2 linked regions of the Homo sapiens genome follow. The protein of the gene in region 2 interacts with the protein of the main gene of each other region in a biochemical or structural test. Each region holds a gene or a part of one and is shown on either strand. Other genes may lie near its edges. The genes, in order: CCND2 and DMP1.

What was found.
Region 1: the proteins of DMP1 (region 2) and CCND2 form a complex in vitro, tested with the Homo sapiens proteins (one study listed by BioGRID).

Annotation. Positions count from the first base shown.
Region 1 is NC_000012.12:4,268,859-4,277,886, reverse strand, and holds the start of CCND2 (G1/S-specific cyclin-D2), read right to left. Parts: upstream 4,126-9,028; 5' UTR 3,847-4,125; coding exon 3,652-3,846; intron 2,592-3,651; exon of another isoform or gene 2,410-2,591; intron 1,883-2,409; coding exon 1,667-1,882; intron 1-1,666. UniProt on the Homo sapiens protein: Regulatory component of the cyclin D2-CDK4 (DC) complex that phosphorylates and inhibits members of the retinoblastoma (RB) protein family including RB1 and regulates the cell-cycle during G(1)/S transition.
Region 2 is NC_000004.12:87,644,481-87,654,006, reverse strand, and holds the start of DMP1 (dentin matrix acidic phosphoprotein 1 isoform 1 precursor), read right to left. Parts: upstream 3,728-9,526; 5' UTR 3,623-3,727; intron 1-3,622. UniProt on the Homo sapiens protein: May have a dual function during osteoblast differentiation. In the nucleus of undifferentiated osteoblasts, unphosphorylated form acts as a transcriptional component for activation of osteoblast-specific genes like osteocalcin.

The sequences.
Region 1 (9,028 bases), on a different chromosome or scaffold from region 2:
AAACATTAAAAATATCGTATGTGCTACCAGAAAATATGCCTATCCACTGAGCTGTCATCAGAAGAATGAGAGGCAGGGCCTGTTTGCCAATGCACCCTCTCTCCCATTCACCTGGAGAACCTGGAATCTCTTTCATTTGCTAAACCAGCAACCAGAGCACCAGTCCCACAGCTGTGGGGCTGGGGGTGATTCCCTTTCCCTCCCAGGCCTCAGCCTTCTCATTTGTAAAATAGGACTCTTCCAAATCCCAACTTCTGGGATAAAGGGAATAGGAAAAAGCCAAGTTTGTTTGTAGCAATATATTGCTTGGCTAGTCCTGGAAAGATTTGGGTGTCCTGAAGAACATCTCAATTCACCATCCTCTCGAAACAAATGAACCATATGAAGATGATTTTTCCTGCTCTCTCATGAGAAAAACAAATTGGTTCCCAATTCTAACAATGTTTTCTTCATAAGCTTTAAAATCTGCCTTGGCTTTCTGTGTACAGCCGGGGTAAAGCACCCCAATAAACTACTAAACCACCATCATCTTCAAAGATGGCTTGAAATGCCAGCCCTTCCTCTTCACAGGGTAATGCGAGTACGAACCACTGGTCTTGCACCGTTATTAAAGGAAGCAGATCTCCCAGAAGAAAGCACCTTTCTAGGCCTCTCGGACCAAACCAGAAGCAGCTAAAACCTGGCAGCGGTTCAAAGGTGAAGTCATTCAGGCCCCTCTCCACATTCTCGGCAATTCCTCCCCCAACCTTGTGCATGTCTTCCACTAGATGGCAGCAGAGCCCCAGAAAGGAAGGCTCCTCACAAAGAGCTCAGTTCAAGAAGCCAGCCTCAGCCCTGTGGACTTTGTGCGGGCCCTACCAGTGAGGAGGGGGAGGGGCGGGAAGGAGGGGGTGCTTTTCTGAACAGTGCAAAGAGGGGTGTGCAAACCACCGAAGGTGGGCCTTGGAGCCGCTATTCCATGCGGTACAGCTGCAATATGGTCGTCTTATATGTCAAGCTGCAGGGAAAAGGAGTTAGATCAGGTGGGAAAAAGGTTCCCTGGTAGAAAAGCAGAGATAAGACAGGATCCCTGGGGTTGTACAGAGGTCACAGTCCCACTGGAGGTAGGAACCCAGGCCTCGGACTCCTTCAGTGAAAGGCCACATTTTGACTTTGCTCAAAAGTCAATGAACTGATATTTAGTGAACAGCTATTATGTGTTGGTATCTTGAGACTTTGTAGATATAGAGGGCATTACCTTTGAACTCCAAGTTTTTAGGAGACACCACAGCCACATACCTATCATGTGAACACGTTCTCAGACTATTTTTGGAAATTTGGAATTTAATTAAAATATTATCACTGTTAATTAAAATATTCCATGCGTCCCCTACACACATGCATACACAATTGCAAATGAGTCTCACCAACCCAAATCTCCATGAGGATCTTATTCACAGATGTAGCCTCAGTGCTGGGCACGGAGCCTGGGCACATAGTAGGAACACACAAAAAATAAACAGTGGTTTCCTATTAAATGAGCTATCGCCCATAAGTGGGTAAATTCTATTGGTGGGGTCATTCTGGATCCCAAGAATTTGCTCTGGCAGTGGTGATAGAAGGCATATTGTTGGCCAGGGGAAAGCGGGAATCGCAGAAAGGAAGGGAGGAAGGGGCCGGTCATTACCAGCAGCTCCTGAGGCTTGATGGAGTTGTCGGTGTAAATGCACAGCTTCTCCGCGGTCAGCGGGCTGGTCTCTTTGAGTTTGGAGGCCAGGAACATGCAGACAGCACCCAGGAGTTGCAGATGGGACTTCGGAGTCGGGACCCCAGCCAAGAAACGGTCCAGGTAATTCATGGCCAGAGGGAAGACCTCTTCTTCGCACTTCTGTTCCTCACAGACCTATAATGGGAGTGGGAAAGGGTTGGGGGGCGGGGGTGGAGAGCATAGCATCAGCAAAAGAGAAAAAGAATAAAAAAGCGTAATCTATCGAAACAAAAAAAATTAATTTTTTTTTGTGGGAGGGGGAGGGGACCAGAATGCGTGATAAGAATAAAGAACAAAGATGAGGAAACTGGAGTGAATCAGAATAGCCCATCAGTGCTTTGGTATTCCCAGGGATCCTATAAAAGGGGGTGAACTACAGCTCCAAAACGGGGAGTCGGAGAAGTGCGCAGCAGCCGCGGCAGCTCCGCGACGCTCCCTTTGGCTACTCCTTCGCGCACTCTAACTCACTCACTCTTTTTTGGATTTCGTCATCTTTTCAAAAAATCAATAAAAATATTCTGGAGGCTCCGGGGGTCCACTTCTTGGTCTCATCCGGATCCCCAGATCCTCCTCTATCATTCCCGACAATTGGAAAAAATGTCTGGGGGGGTCCCTGCGGCCCAGGGGCCGCTTTTGGGGGGGCGGGTGAGGAGAGGTGGGGAAGAGAGGGGGAGGGAGGAGAGGAGGAAGAGCGCCGCAGCCTCGGCAGCTGGAGTCGGAGCAGGGGGGGATGGTTTCAAAAAATAATTAAAAATCGAGGAAATATCCTAGAAAAGCCCTTTTGGCGTGAAAACCCCAAAGAAGAGCCAGGCTTCCCGAAACAGAGGTTTCGGGTGCCAGAAAGGTCTGTATTCCGACCCCTGGGGCTTTGGATCCCGGGAGGAAACTTGAAGGGGTGAGCGCCGCGGCGGGAGTGTCCGGCTGCGGCCCACAAGGACAGAAACTAGGGAACGCGGTGACGAGCGAGGGGAAAGACGGGAGCAGAGAGCCCTGGAAAGAGGCACGGGGGGCTCCCACCTCTCCTTCAGGGGTGACCCGGTATCCCCCCTACACACACCCCCTCCCCCCCTTCCTACCCCACCCAAATCTCCGCACCGAGGAAGCTGGAAAACCAAACTGTAAGTAATCTTCGTGAGGTGGGGGGTGGGGGAGAGGGCACGATTAGAAGTGGGGTGGCCGGGATAATGGGGTGCGAGGGTAAGCGGGCGACGTTTCCCAGCCTTTCCAAAGGGAGTTTGCAAAGCAACATGGCGAAACCACGGCAGGTCCAGAGCTGTGCATACGTGGGCACACGGCTCGCTGGGCAAAGACTTGGAGTGAGGGGCAAGAAGCGGTTCTTTTGGGTTCCCCTGAAACACGCGTTTCTTCAATGGGACTTCCGGGGCTCCCGAATTCCCCGTTTCTCTCCTTCTCCCTCCTCCCTCCACCTCCCCGGTGAAGTGCCAGCGCGGAGTCGCGACCACAGGCGGGGACCTGAGGCCAAGACGAATTTGCTCTGGCCTTTTGGGGGGGGTTGCCTTTCTACTCGGGGTCCCGATTTCAGGCCCCGACTCTCTTCCTGGCCGCAGCGCAAGCAGCCGCGGCGGCTTCGCAAAAGACAGGTCGCGAGGGGGGTGGGAAGAAGAGGCAGCCACATGCAGGAACACGCGCGCGGGATGCTCCCCTACCCCCGCCCAGGACAGCCTCGCTTCTCCCAGATTTTCCTCCCCCCTCTGCCTCCCCAGTTTATCTGGAGAGGAACAGAAATAAAGCCACGCGTCTCGCCAGAAGGCGCGCGGTAAACTCCCGCACAGGAGCCGGGAGGCCGGCGCGGGGATTGCCCTCTCCCAGGTTTAGGGCTCCGGCCGGGGACCCGAGCATCCGGAGGGGTCCTGGCTCCTGGCGAGCGCCACCCCCCGACCTACCTCCAGCATCCAGGTGGCCACCATTCTGCGCATGTAGGGTTGGATGTCCTTCTGCACGCACTTGAAGTAGGAGCACTGCGGAAGGTAGCGCTCCTCGATGGTGAGCAGGTTCTGCAGGACGCGGTCGTCTCGGAGCAGGTTGCGGTCCCGCACGGCCCTGCGGACCGGGTCCACCTCGTGGCACAGCAGCTCCATGGCCAGCCCGGCGGCCCCTCTCCCTCCTGCTTTCCCCGGCCTGGAAAAAGGTTTTTCTGTTTTTGTTTTTTGGAAGGGGAGGGGAGAGCGTTCCCCTGACCTCCTTCCTTTGGCTAAATAGGGGGTTTTCGGGGGAGAGGTGAGGGCAGAGAGAGAAGGTGGAGCAGAAGGGAGGCGAGGATTGGGTGGTGGGCGAGCAGAGCCTCGGGGCTGCCTCACTCGCACCGGTCCTCCCCTTAAAACTGGTCTCGCTCTCCCCTGCTCGCTCTTCTCCGCTCTGAAGCGGTGACGCAAGCTGGCTGGGCAGTTAGCTCTCCTCCCTCTCCCCGCGCTCCCCGCTCTGGTTCCTCCTCCCCTTTCCTCCCCTCCCGGTCCTCCCCTCCTCCTTTCAATCTCTCCCTCCCTCCCTCCTTTTCCCCTCTCGTTATTAAGGAGAACAGCAGCTGGCCCGACCCAACTTCAAACGCGGTCCCCCGCCACCCCCCACCCCTCTCCCTCCATCCAGCCCTGCATGCCAGGGGCCCCGGACAGGGCAACCCACAAAAAACTACCGACTCCTATTTCTGCCCTCTAATTTCACTCATTCTGTAGGTGTAGCACGCCAAAATACGACCCTCCAACTTTGGCTTCTTCAAAACGGATCCTAATCCTCCTGCCCTTGTATTTAAGATCCAGGAATGTAGGGTAGATTATCTGAAGATGGGGTGACCTCAGACAATTTAGAAATAGGTCCCTTAAGTGAAAAATAAGGGAGGGGGTGATTTTAGAAAATAGCAACCTCGCATACCCAGAGATAAAGGTCATGTCCCTGAAGTCTGTGTTCCTGATAACTTCGAAGCTGTTTCGAAAGCCCCGATTAAAGGGACCAGAACAACGTCCCTTCTGCCCCCCCCTGCAGAGTGTGTGCAGAGGAAGAAGAGGGAGGGAGAGGTGGGTATTAGGAAGGAAGGGGGGTGCTTCTCTGGAGGGATAGAATGTGATCCTCGAGCAGAAACCATCGTGTTTCTGGGGGCTCTTCGGGCGCCGTGGGGCGACGCGGTGCAGCGTCTAGGGCCGCCGCAGGCCGGGGGCAGGGCTCCCAGCGGTTCCCCCGCGGCCAGCGGCCACGCAGGAAAAACCCGCTTCCTCGCCCCTGCATCTGCTGACAAGCCGCCCGAGGTGTCTGCGCTGAGCGTGGCCACACCGATGCAGCTTTCTAGGAAATGGCCCGGGAGGGGGAGGGGGCGAGTGAGGGATTAGGTCCGGCTCCCCCTCGCTCCCCCTGCGCAAACACCACCACCCCTTCCTTTCCCCGGAGGCATGAGGCCTCCACGCTCGGTCCTTCGCCCGCATCCTCGCCGACCCCTCCGGTTTCGCGCCTCACTCGCCAGGCTTTCTCCCTGGGAGCCGACTGCGGTGAAGTCGCCGCCAGCACGGTCGGCCCTGACACGTGCTCTAACGCATGCTTGAGTCAAGGCTGTCTTTACAGGAGATACGATCTGGTGGCGTTTCTTCACCTCCTTCCTCCCGTCACCCCCCACCCCCACCGCGCCCTTTGGTGTATTTCACTCCAGGAGGAAGGGGAGAGACCAGCGCCCTGATGTGCTGGCCAAGCTGGCACGTGCAGCGGGCATGGCGTGGCTCGAGCTCTCTGGGCACACCGAGGCCGACTGAGTGCCTCCCTCACCGAGAGAGGGGGCCCGGGCAGGGGCGCGGAGAGCCAGCAAGGCGGGGTGGGGCGCGGGCTGGGTGAGCCGTACACTAGGTTCCCTGCAAGGCGGAGGAGGGGAGCGAATAAACTAGAGGTGCAAGCGATTAACTCAGGCCCCGGAGCCAGCCTCTTTAAACGAGGGTGGGGCGGAAGGGGTGGTGGGGGGGAAAGGAGGGGATATCGCTTTAAAAGGGTGAGGAAGAGTTTGGGGCGCCGTCTCCCCTCCCTCTATTTGCATAGCCAATAGCTCTGGGGCTCCTGCTACTGCGCGCTGATTGTTACCGGGCAGATTACTTTTTTTTTTTTTTTTTTTTTTTTTTTTTAGTAGGACGCGTTCCCCACTACATCAAAAGGAAGCCAAGGGAGGGCGGAGGGAGAGCGGGCGCTGGGGCGGGCGAAAGCTGGGGAGAGGCCCGGCCGCCTCCGACCTTATCAATAGCAGCGGGAATGAGTATCCCATCTCCTATATGTAAAGAAAGGGGAGGGAAGGGGCGGGCGAGGAAAATGTCTAATTGCTGTGGAAGCCATTAGCTTTCAGGAAGAAAAAAAGCTCGCTGAAAAACCCAAGTTGCAAACTCAAAATGAAACAGTCCAGCGCCGCGGATGACACCCGGGCCGAATACCGTGTACACCCGCACACAGTCGGCCCCGAACAATCACCTATTGGTTTTAGTCACGTTGGGCTTCCCGACTTAAGCTTTTGAGTCACCCCGGATAAGGACATTCACTTACATTTTAAGACCCCCATAAGGGAATTACTCCAATTTCACCTAAGCCACCTTTGAGCGGATCAAAGAAAGTTGCAGCGGGGAGAGGCGAGAGAAGGAGGGAGGGCGGGAGGTATTTTTAAAGTATAAATCTAACCCGACAGGCAAGGGACAGAGGCCGCCGGGGCTCCCAGCCTCTGGACATCACTTGATATAGCTCTGCGAGCAAGGTCTCTTCCACCCCGACTCCGCACACCCCCCCTTCTCCGGGGAAAGGCATCCAGAGCTCTGGGTCTCCCGAAGTGGGGGCAGCGGGGGCGAGGAAGAAGCGGGTGGTCGTCCCGGGGCCCAGCCCACCCCGAGGAGAATGCCTGGGTGGCGAGTCCTCACGTCTCGGGAGTGAGCCGAGGGCCCTCTCGCCCCTTCCCTCTCCCCCTCCCCCTACTCCGTCTTGCTTTACAGAGAAATTCCAGCGGGGAGGGGGGCAGCGAATGGGAGGGGCAGAGAGGGTCGCGGCCGGATGCCCCCCCTTCCCGGCGCCCTCTGCATTCATGGAGACCCGCAAGTTCGGGCGCTTCCCGCGTGGCAGGCTCGCCTCTTGAAGTTCCCCTGTCCACTTCCCCTTCCGATTACTGACTGTTCCCGAGCGTGAAGCTCGCCATCGAATCCAATCCCCGGTGGTTTTGCAGACTCTCACACGTGGGGTGGGGCGTGAGAGGGTGCGGAGGTTGGCAGGAATGTCTCTAGGAGGCTTGGACTGGAAACTGAGTTTTCCCTTTTGGTCGCCACTCCAGCCATGTGTTAAAACCCTAATGTCTTGTTAAAATGCACTCCACCTAGCACGCGGGAAAACGCATGTTGCCTTCTAGGCAAAAGTGCACACTTTCTTTCAGTGTAGACTTCGGTTTCAAGAAAAAGCGCAAGAGCCTGTGCTCTGGCTTTGAAGTCCAAACTGATCACCGTGGCGCGGGGGTGGGGGGCGGCGGGAGGGGGTAGATTGTTGGTTCTTCCTTATCTCCTTTTCACCCTTCACGGAAAAAAAAATACATATATATATATCCCATGTAGGACTGGTGATAAACTTTAGCGAACGCCAGTTTTATTGGACTTTTATTCTTTTTCCGGCCGGCTCCCCACCCTCTACGCTAGCGTTTTGGAGTTTCGGTTGGAAAGTGTACAAAGCCTGGAGGTGGAGGGTGCAGCAGGGTGTTGGGTGTTTATAGGCACTTTTCTGCAGGAGCCTGCAGCACTAAGCACACATACTCCCAAGCTTACCTGGAGGATGCCTCCCAGCCAGGTGATTCCGCGGTCGGCTCAAGGCCCGGGAGCAGCGCGAGTTCGAGTCCCGCCTTCTCCGCGCAGGGGCGCCTAGGCCAGGTGGGGAGCGGGTAGTGACTGAGTTCAGGCTCAGAAATGGGAGCCACTGCCTTCCCCTCGGCTCCCCCAAAGAGTGGAGCTGTGTTTGTGTTTCTCCGTGGAGGGATGGACGGTCAATCAAAACCGAAAACCCGACTGGCAAAATGCGAGGGGACACATAAATCCGAGGGGACACATAGGAGGCACATCAAGAGGAAGGAGGGAGTGCAGGCAAAGTAGAAAAATGCGGACAAGGAGAAGAGGAAAACGTCGGGAAGCGGAGAGCACGGGGGAGCAGGGTGGGTGGGGACGGGCAGTGCGATTGCAGGTGTTCACTCGCTTCCGGGACCCTCTGGTCGCAGCCGCGCCCGCCGGGGCGCTGGGCCGCTGCGTTCTGGAGGGGGGCAGAGTCCGCCAGGCCTGTGCATCCGCACTCCCTTCGGCGAATTTCGGCTTGGACGGGGCTGGATTACTGAGGCGGCAGATGCGACAGGCGTGAGTTAAGAAGGCGAGCGCCTGCCGTCTGTCACCCACCTAGCATCTCACTCCCCTCCCTTCGGAAAAAAAAAAAATTAAAAGACCCGAACTTCCCCCTCTTCCTGTCTGATTCAGCTTAGGACACGCCTCACGCGGCCGAAAATAGCTCTGGAAATACATTTGCTTTACAAAAGTGAATTTTCCAATAAGCTTTGGGGCGGGGGGCGTCCGGCGGTCGGCGTCGGGGGGTCCTGCCTCCCGGGAGGAGAAGGAACCGGCCGCCTCCGCCCTTCTCCCCCTCCAGGCGCCCCCGGGAGGGGGCCGCTGGGCGGCGGAATCGCGCCTCCGCTCGGGGAGCCACCACGCGGCTTTTTCGCGGAATTTTGACGTCATCCACACGTGGGGGAAGGGGCTGGGAGAGCAAGAGGAAGCGGCGGGGGAGGGGGCCGCGGCTGGGAGAGCGCGGCGGCGGCGCGGCGGGTCTGGCACCCTCGCGGTGGGCGCAGCGCCGGGCAGGGTCCGGGCCCTGGGCAGCGCGGCAGAGGAGGCCGTGCCGCGGACCCCGGAGCCAGCGCCGCGACCCGCCTCCCTCCCCGCCCCCCGCCCCTCGCCATCTTCCACCCCCAAGCAGTTTATTTTTTCTACTTTGAAATCGGGGCCGCTCTTTGCTCCGGAAAAAGCTCATTTCTTTAGGTTATGGTCCTGTTCCGCTGGGTACTGAGATCAGACTGAAATCCCGATCACTGGTCGCGACCCCCGCCACTTGACTTTCTATCCTCTCTCCACTTGAGAGTCGTGAATGTCTTTTTCGGTTCCTCGGGGAGTGAGTTCTGCATTGACTTTTACACCCGGAGTTTTTCATGCGCGACATATTCCTCCCTGCTCCCCCGCCCCATTCACCATCTCAGTATCAGCTGGGTTGGTTAATACGATGGCTATTACATGTAAGATA
Region 2 (9,526 bases):
TCCAATCATATTTCTACATGGCTGCCCATGTTTTGTTGGACATAAGCATAAAGATGGACAGTTTCTCCTGTATCTTTAGGTCTTCGTTCTGAAGGCTCCTGTGTCACATAAAAATAATTTTGTATTCCTTTTCTCCTATTAATCTATATTTTGTCAGTTGATTTTCAGCAAACCTTCAGAGGGTGAGGGGGAAGTTTTCCCTTGGCCCCTAAAATAATGATAGGAGTTAAAAGCCAAAGATTCTCAACCCTAAATATATATTACTATCAACTGGGAAGAGTTTTAAAAATGCCAATGCACAAATCCCATCCCAGGGCAATAAATCCATTCACTTGGGTGGGCACAGGAATAGGTTTGTTTTTAAAGTTCCACAAGAGATTTTAACACTTGATCTAAGAATTAAAAATATCATAATTAACCAGGCTTGGTGGCACGTGCCTGTAGTCCCAGCTACTCAGGAGGCTGAGTGGGGAGAATTCTTTGAGCCAGGGAGGTTGAAGCTGCACTGAGCCATGATCGTGCCACTCCACACCTGTTTGGGTGACAGAGCAAGACCCTATCTCAAAAAAAAAGTATATATATATATATATATATATATATATATATATATATATATATATCACTCGATAATGCCTGAATATGCTGAATATTGTCTGAAACATTGGGCTCAAGAAGTCATCTAATCTTATTTTTAATGTATTCAATAAAATAATAGAAATCCTAAGATAAGGAGCCTGAACAGGCTTCTCATTTCTGCTTTCACACAACTCAAATGGTCAAACAACCTCTCATGTATATTATGGGCATTATCTCTCCTCAGCATAGTTATTCTTAATTTGTGCTACTTTCTTTATTCTAATTCGCATAGTGTATATCAGTCCTTATGTTTGATACTATCTTAATTTCTTTTAAAAATCCTTCAATTAATATCAACAGAGAAAAACATATGAAAATGCTTAACTATACCAAAATCAAGCTTAATTTAATAGATGTTACTTCTCTTTAGATACCACAATCAAAACTTTTTAAAAAATGTGTTAGGTTTATTTCTTCAGGAAAGCAAAATTTTCTCAAATATGATATTCTCAAAATAACCCTTTCAATGCTTTCAGTTTCACAGATCAAATGAAAGTTACCTCATCATTTTAATTTTCAAAGTGAAATTTGAATAGGGTTATAATTTCATGATTCTCTGAAAGCTAGCAAATGTTAGAGCCTTGACAGAAGGTCAATGACTATTGAATTCTCTTGTATTTTCTTTAGCTTCTCTAATCTAAATAATTAGAAAACTGGGGATGCCATTGTGCATTTATTCTAAACCAATGAACGTTGTGTTTTCTCACAAAGAAGTGCATGCCCCAAGTGCTCAAGTTTCTTAGGGATGGAAGATTCTAAAACACAAGAAAGATGCCCTAACTTGCTCAGGATTCTAGAAATACTCGTTAGCATCCTGACCTAAAGCAATAATTTCCCAGATGCAAGTCTAGTAAACTAAAATAAAAGACACTCTAGAGTTCTGAGAGAGCTGATGTTGCCACCCAAAAAATATAGTCCAACTGTAAGCATTAAAGAAAATCAGATCTTAAACCCCTTGTTAGGTTTGCATTTGGTATTTCTGATAAAAATAATTATAATTTTGTGAAGTGCATTTCCAAACAAGAGCTCCAAACTTTTATAAACATTTTGGCTACTATTCAAAAAAGAGTAGAAGCAGATAGGCAGTAGCCATATTCTGAATAATAAATGTGAACCACAGCTACAAGCCTGCAATTAAAAGTCCAGAACTTTGAGTTCTTCTTCAGTGATTGGTTAATGTTATTTCTACATTCTACATGCTGTCATTCTACAGTGAGATGACGTAACAAAAGGAAATAAACAACTTGAGTTCCATCCATTTGGAAGGCGGTGTATTAGAGAATTTCTGCCCCTGTGAATTGTTTTCATAGAGTTGAAAAGAGCCAAATGTTTAGAATGTGGAGAGGGAAACTAAAGTCAAGATTTCAGGTGTGTAGCCAAAACTTCTTTCGGCTCTTAAGTAAGGAAATTTGTTCTAGCATTTTCTCAAGGTTAAGATACATTTGTAAAATATATATCTTCTTTTATGTAAACCAAAATGAAGGAAATAGGCCAAAAGAAGAAAATAAAGGTTTGAAAAGTCATAGACTCTTTTTTCTTTTGGAAAACAATTCATCATATTAATTTGCTTTATTTGTCTTAGTATTGTTATCTTCAAGAACACAACTGAACAATACATTCATTCATTAGCAGTCAGTAAATATTTATGAACATGCAATGTGTTAGGCACTTTTCTAGCCCATATTCTCAAAACCAACAATTTAAGAAACTCTAATATTTTGGTAGCTTTCTCCATGTACAACCTGTAAATGTACATTAGCAGGAAACTTTAATAATAATAAACAATAATAATAAAATAAGTTGGTTTTATAATAATAAAATTAACCAGAATCCAACTAACTAGAACCTGCTAGAATTTGTTTTCTTATTACTCTTTGAAAATAGAATCAAACTTGGCCAGGATATGAACTCTACCAGGAATCCAGAGAAACAAACAAACCAAAAAAAAATCCAATTCTTCCTATTGTATGTGTCTTCAGGTCAATTACGATGAATCCAATATTATATGCTTTTAATCACAGGAATATACCTCTGAGGTGCCCCCAAAATTAAATATAGATTTGGAAGGCCTCTAAGCATCTGAGGCACATTGTTTTACATCACCATTTTCAGGTAGGTAAGTGGACTAATACCCTTTAGAAAATAGTTTGTTCGCATTTTTAAACAACAAAGTTAAAATAAGATAGTCAAGCCTCAGTTAAACAGAAAGTATGGTTAACCACAAGTTACTGCTCTTAAGGAAGACAAGTTGCTAAAACACATGGACTCTTCTAAACGTCACACAGATGAAGAAGTGCACTAAATACAGTAAATAAAAATACATATGGACATTTTAAAATATATGTTTTAAAATGCAATATTTTAAAATATAATTATATTCAACATTTATTGAATTCTAACTGTATTCAAGGCATCATGCTAACATGAATACAAAAAACATAATTATCACACCCTCAGTTATTTCAGTAGTTTAATCATCTTTTAGTTACTTATGCAGTTCATAATAAATGTTACTAGATGCTCTCTAGATGAATAACATTTTAATTTAAAAAAAATTCTTTTTAAAGTCCTGCCATTCAATAAGTTTAGCTTTTTTTTCACAATCTTGTAGGTTGCAAACATTCCCTTATTCATGAAACACACTGTAAAAGTTTTATACGTTTTGCTAATTAAAACTAAATTTCAAAATGACCTTCCATCTGCCTCCTGTTCTATAAACTATCCCTTTTAGAAGTGTCATGCAGAGATCTAATTAAAGCATTACCAAGAAAAACACCTGGCTGTATTGTCTTAACATGTCATTTTCATATCATTATTTACTGTGGCATAAACAACAGGCACAAAAATAGGAACTGTTTTTACCCAAAGCGCAGCTCTCCCATCTCTCTCTACATGGTATAATGCCTCAAACATGTATACATATTTAATATTTTCCAAACAACCAGCAAAAGTCATTTTAAAAAATTAAATGATGAAAATGACTTACCCTCCGTAGTTCACAAAGAATTTTTTCAAAAAGTCTCAAAAATCAGGTTGATGTTCTCAAAGAGGAAATCTATGCCCAATGAAGCCACTCTTGTGTTGATATTCTGGACACTTCTCTGATGGTGCAGGAATTTAAACTCTGCTGCAGCTCTTCATAGCCAATCAACCTCAGGCTGGGGGTGACTGACATCACAAGGTGTCACCGGGACCCCGGTACACCCACACTTCCTCCAGCTGGCAGAGGCACATTTTCCCTAAAAAGCTCTTGTGGTTCCCAAATGACTAGACTAGTTTCCATTAAATTGAAGATCTTCCCAAAACTTTATTTTGATTTCTAAATATATGTCATTCACATTCAGGCAGTCTTATGAACAATGACAATGTCTTCTACCCACCGACAGATCCCAGCAGACCCAAGGATGGGAAAGGCGGAGGCAGGGGTGGGTAGAAAGTTTCCTGTTAATGTACATTTCCAGGTTGTACATGGAGAAAGCTACTAAAATACTAGAGTTCCTTAAATTGTTGGTTTTGAGAATATGGGCTTTTATTTCTTCCTTTTTCCTCTTTTAACAACCTCTACTACTCACCTCCTTTTCCTCTCATCTCCCCACCCCCATATACACACAAAGTTCCCAAACTCCTACTAATCTAATAAAGCGTCCACTAAAGTACCCCCCTTAAGTAGCTATTGTGTTATTCAAGAAATTTAGATCTAACACTTAACACTTAATCATTCCCTGTTTGCCACATTTTAATGATTCTTTGAAATCAGAATTGGATTAAGGGGAATACTAGCTGGGTAGCATCCAAGGAAACTAATCTTGAAGGGACTCTGTGCCACCACTGAAAATGTAATGAAATGGATAAAATGATATTTACCAAAACATTTTCGAGGAAGCGTACTAAAAGTTGTAGGGAGCTGGAAATGGGTTTGGCAATTTCCCAGGAGCGTGTTCAAGTGACGGCAGGATGGCCACTGAACAAGAATTTAGAGAATATCAGCTGCTGGACCTTAATTTCCTTAAGAGTAGGGATGTTTGCTTGTCTACTGATCTATAATCAGTGCCTGGATACCTAGAACAGTTCTTAATAATCACTCAGTACTCTTTGAATGACTGAGTGGATTGGCTTGAAAATTAGCCAAACTATTAACTTGATTACAGTATCTGCATAACTCACTGTAACTTTTAAAAAAATGCTTTAATTGTTAAAAAAAAAATTGAGCTGATGCTCCTAACATGGATCTAGAAAATTAGAGTGCCCAATTTATTCAGGCAACTAATGTCAGATATATGGATTATCAACATATTTAGTGTGAACTATAATATGCGGGGGAGGGTGGTGCAGACAATGAGGAAAGAGATGTCTATTTTCATTTAGGGTTGATTAGAAAGCCAAAGTCCATATGGGGAAGCTATAAATTCCCTGTGATTTGCTCTGGTTCTGAATTACACTCTCTGATGGTTTCATGGGTCTTAACTGAGATCTATGCTAGAAGAACCTTATAATCTTATGACAGAATTGGATTCTGGGCAGATTTGGGCAGATTGCATTACAAGACATTATTTTAGACTCTCTTCAAATCCCTACATAAAAACAGAGGAGCAATTAGATAACAAAATTGAAAACTGTGGATAACATTTACAATAAAACTAGGCATTTTTGTTATCTATTGCTATATCAAAAACCACTTCAATACTTTGCATTTTAAAACAACTACCATTTTCTTATCTCTCACAGCTAGCATTGTAGTCATCTGAAGACTCAGTTGGGGCAGAACATTTCAGATGCCACTTTCATAGTTGTTACCTGAGAGCTCAGCTGGAGCTGTAATTCTGAGCACTTTAGTTCTTTACATGGCCTCTCCTTGGCTTGGCCTTCTCACAACCTGAAGGCTGGGGGCCAAGAGTTCCTAGAATATCATTTTTCCATATTCTGTTGGTCAATCAATCACAAGGAGATCTCAGATTCATAAGGAGAAATACTCTCTACCTTTTGGTGTCAGATCAGGATGCACATGTATAGGGAGCAGAGGAAACGTTGAGGTAGTTTTTGATTAGTTACCACCCCTTATGACAAGTTATATCCACTAACTCCAAGGTGACTAAGGACAAAGTCCACAACTGCCACAAGACCTAGAGAGTCTATGCAGGAGTGAGCGGAGGAAAGCAGCAGGAAATCTGATGAACATGAGAACAGCAGAACCCAAAGCAGTCAAGAATTATTGCTGATGGGTGCCAATGGTTCATAGCACAGCTGAAGGATCTAGACCAGTCTAGCCCCTAAGGATTCTAAGCCACTACAGCTGCTTTCTAAGACAGACTCACATACAGGAGAAACTTCTGGGAGTGGAATAAAAATTGCACAGGATATAGACAATAGAGAAGACACAGATAAATATGGGAGAGGGGAATGGATCCAAGAAATCTTAGAAAGCTGCTATTTTTTTTTAACATAACACGAAAGCAACAGAAGAGGGAGCCGTGTGAAGTTTGAAAGTTACCCTGAACCACATTTCTTTCTAAAAGTACAGGAAAACCACTTTCATATAAAACAAACAGCAAAAAACTATGAAGGTTAAATCCCATAGGAGCAGAATAACAACCTGATAGACAAAGTATGCTTAAAAGACATAATTAAATAATAAATTAAAACCCTAAGCTTCTATTTTTAAAATAGTAAAGAAGTATCAAGAAAATGACACAATAGGTGAAAAAAATACATGGAAACTAGAATAATTCAGAAAATAAATATCAGGACTCAGGAAAATATTAGCATGAAAGAAAAAATTATTTTAGAAATGAAAACTAATCTAGAGGGAACACAAAAGAGAATAAATATAATAGGTAATTATTCAATGGAAGTAGAAGGCAAAAAAGAGGGAAATATTTTAAAGTTAAAAAAATAAATAAATAAAAAGTATTTGGGAAAAAGTGAATTATATTAAAGATTGGCAAAGAACATCCAAATTGTAGATTATAGGAGGCCTAAAGAAGATAACAAAAGTGAGAGAACAGCAGAAGTACTAAAAAACAAACGAATAACAAACATATCATCGAAGGAAGTTTCCCTGAATTTAAAAAAAGAAGATTAAAAACTCTCATTTAAAGAGCATATCATGTACCTGAGAATATTGGCCCAAAATGACCAACACCAAAACATATTCTAATAAAATTACTGAACTTTGAAGGTAAAGTCCTTTGGGCTTCTAGGCAAAAGCAACAAGTGATTCATAAGGGAAGGGATATTAGATTATCATTAAGACTTTGACAGTAATGCTTCATGCCAGGAAAAATAAGGTAATATACCTAATGCATTCAAGATAAGAAAATGTGAAGTAAGGATTTTATAAGTCAGCAAACTGACTTTTAGGTATGAGAGGCTAAAGCAAACTGCTATCAACAGGCAAGAATTCAAGGAATATTATTTTCTCAAACCATTGCTGGGGAATCTACTAGATAAAGAGTTTCAGTCAACCAAAATAACTAGAGAGGCATTGTCGTAAGAACAGGTGATAAACATAAAACATATAGTTACTTGTAAAAATGTAATTAAGTGAGGCTAAACGGGAGACAGCACGGTATATAATAACTAAATACTTAGCATTGATATAGTGCAGCTTTTAAAAAGGTGGGGAGAACGGAGAGCATATGTGCAAAAATAATTTCAACTGCTCTCAATAATTATACTAGTGATGGCAATATTATTGTTATTCTGAGAATGTTGTATGTATAATGTGGAATAAAGTATATTAGTAATTTTGAATTATTCTCTTTCTTTAACCAATGCATCCATGAGAATCAGGATTCTCAGTGTGAAAGAAAGGAGATACAAATTTGATACAAAAGAGCAAAAGCCCTTTGGGAGGCCGAGGCCAGCAGATACCTTGAGCCAGGAGTTCCAAACCAGCTTGGGCAACATGGTGAAACCTCATCTCTACAAACAGTACAAAAAAATTAGCTGGGCGTGGTGGCTCCCACCTGTAGTCCCAGCTACTCAGGAGGCTGAGACAGGAGGATTGCTTGAGCCCAGGAAGTCAAGGCTGCAGTGAGCCATGATCACACCACTGCACTCCAGCCTGGGTGACAGAGTGAGACCCTGTCTCAAAAAAAAAGAGTAATGAACTCCATAATCCTATAATCCTGAATTTAAATGGAAAAGATTAGAATTTACTCAGGGATTATTATAAAGACACACTCACGCACACACACACATATCCTACATGTATATCTTAGCTCTGTCACTATAGAGACCTAAAAACACAGTCATAGCTAGGACCCCTAGAACCCGGATTATGATCTAGCATCTGGGGCCTGTTGGGAAATTGGTTGATACCAGGTCTATGACCCAAAATATGCAAGATGAGTTTGGAACATATTGTCGTCCCAGATTCCAGGAAAGCTATCAAAGATTACTAAGATTCTGTCAAAGGACTCAGGAGCCAACTCAAATAGGCCTCTACTGGCCAAAGATGGAGCAATGTAGTCTTTAAAATAGATAATTTTAAATCTCTGAGTTCATAATGATATTACAAAAATGAAATAGAATACTAATTGGTCACCTTGGGATGATAACAGGAAGCCACTTCATGACCTTGAAAACTTATAAGTAAGTGGAAAGAATGAGGTATTTGTGCAGACCTCTATGAACTAAACCAAATTAGACATGAGGGGAAGCTTATCTTTGTAAAAGAATTGTGTGATGATTAATTTTAGGTGTCAACTTGACTGGATTAAAGAATACCTAGAGAACTGGTAAAGCATTATTTCTGGGCATGTCTGTGAGGGTGTTTCTAGAGGAGCTTGTCATGTGAGTCTGTGGACTTGGTGAGAAGCATCTGCCCCTAGTATGGACAGGCAATATCCAGTCTGCTGGAGACCCCGATAGAACAAAAAAGGAAGCAGAAAAATGATTTCCTCTCTCTCTCCTGGAGCTGAGACATTCTTCTTCTCCTGCCCTTGGACATCACAACTCCAGCTTCTATGGCCTTTAGGCTCCAGGATTTATACCAGGCTACTCCTCCTGACACCCAGGTTCTCAGACCTTGGGCCTCAGACTGAGAGTTACACCATCAGCTTCCCATGTTCTGAGGCTTTCAGACTTGGACTGAGCCACACTACCCTCATCACGGGGTCTCCAGCTTGCAGGCTGCATGCTGTGGGACTTCTCAGCCTCCATAATCACATGAGCCAATTTCTCTAATAAGTCCCTTATCAATTAATATGATATATATATCATATTTATACATATATATTTACATATCCTATTATATATATTTATTTATCTTATTTATATAGGATATATACACAGATGTATATACACACATATATCCTATATAAATAGAATATATAAATAAATACACATAGGATATATAAATACATATAAATAGGGTATCTGTATATAAATATATCCTATATATATAGGATATCTGTGTGTGTGTATATATCCTATAATATACACATGGAATATATATGGATATATACAGATACATACATGTATATATACACATGGAATATATATGAATATATATAGATATATACATGTATATGTGTATATATATCTTATGTATATACAATATATATATAGTGTATACCTATCCTATGTGTGTGTATATATATCCTATGTATATGTCTCTCTGGAGAACCCCTGACTCTATATACATAGCTGTGTATATGCATAGCTGTGTATACAGCTATGTATATAGAGTCGGGGTTCTCCAGAGAGACATATACAGGGGTATATCTGTATATGTCTATGTTACTAGAGTATGTTTTGGTGTTGGTTATGTAATATTATTATGAACTCACAGATTTAAAATCATTTGATAGGTTTCAGTCTGTTGCAATTACTGTCTATCTTAAAGATTACATAGTTCCATCTTTGGCCAGTAGAGGCCTATTGGAGT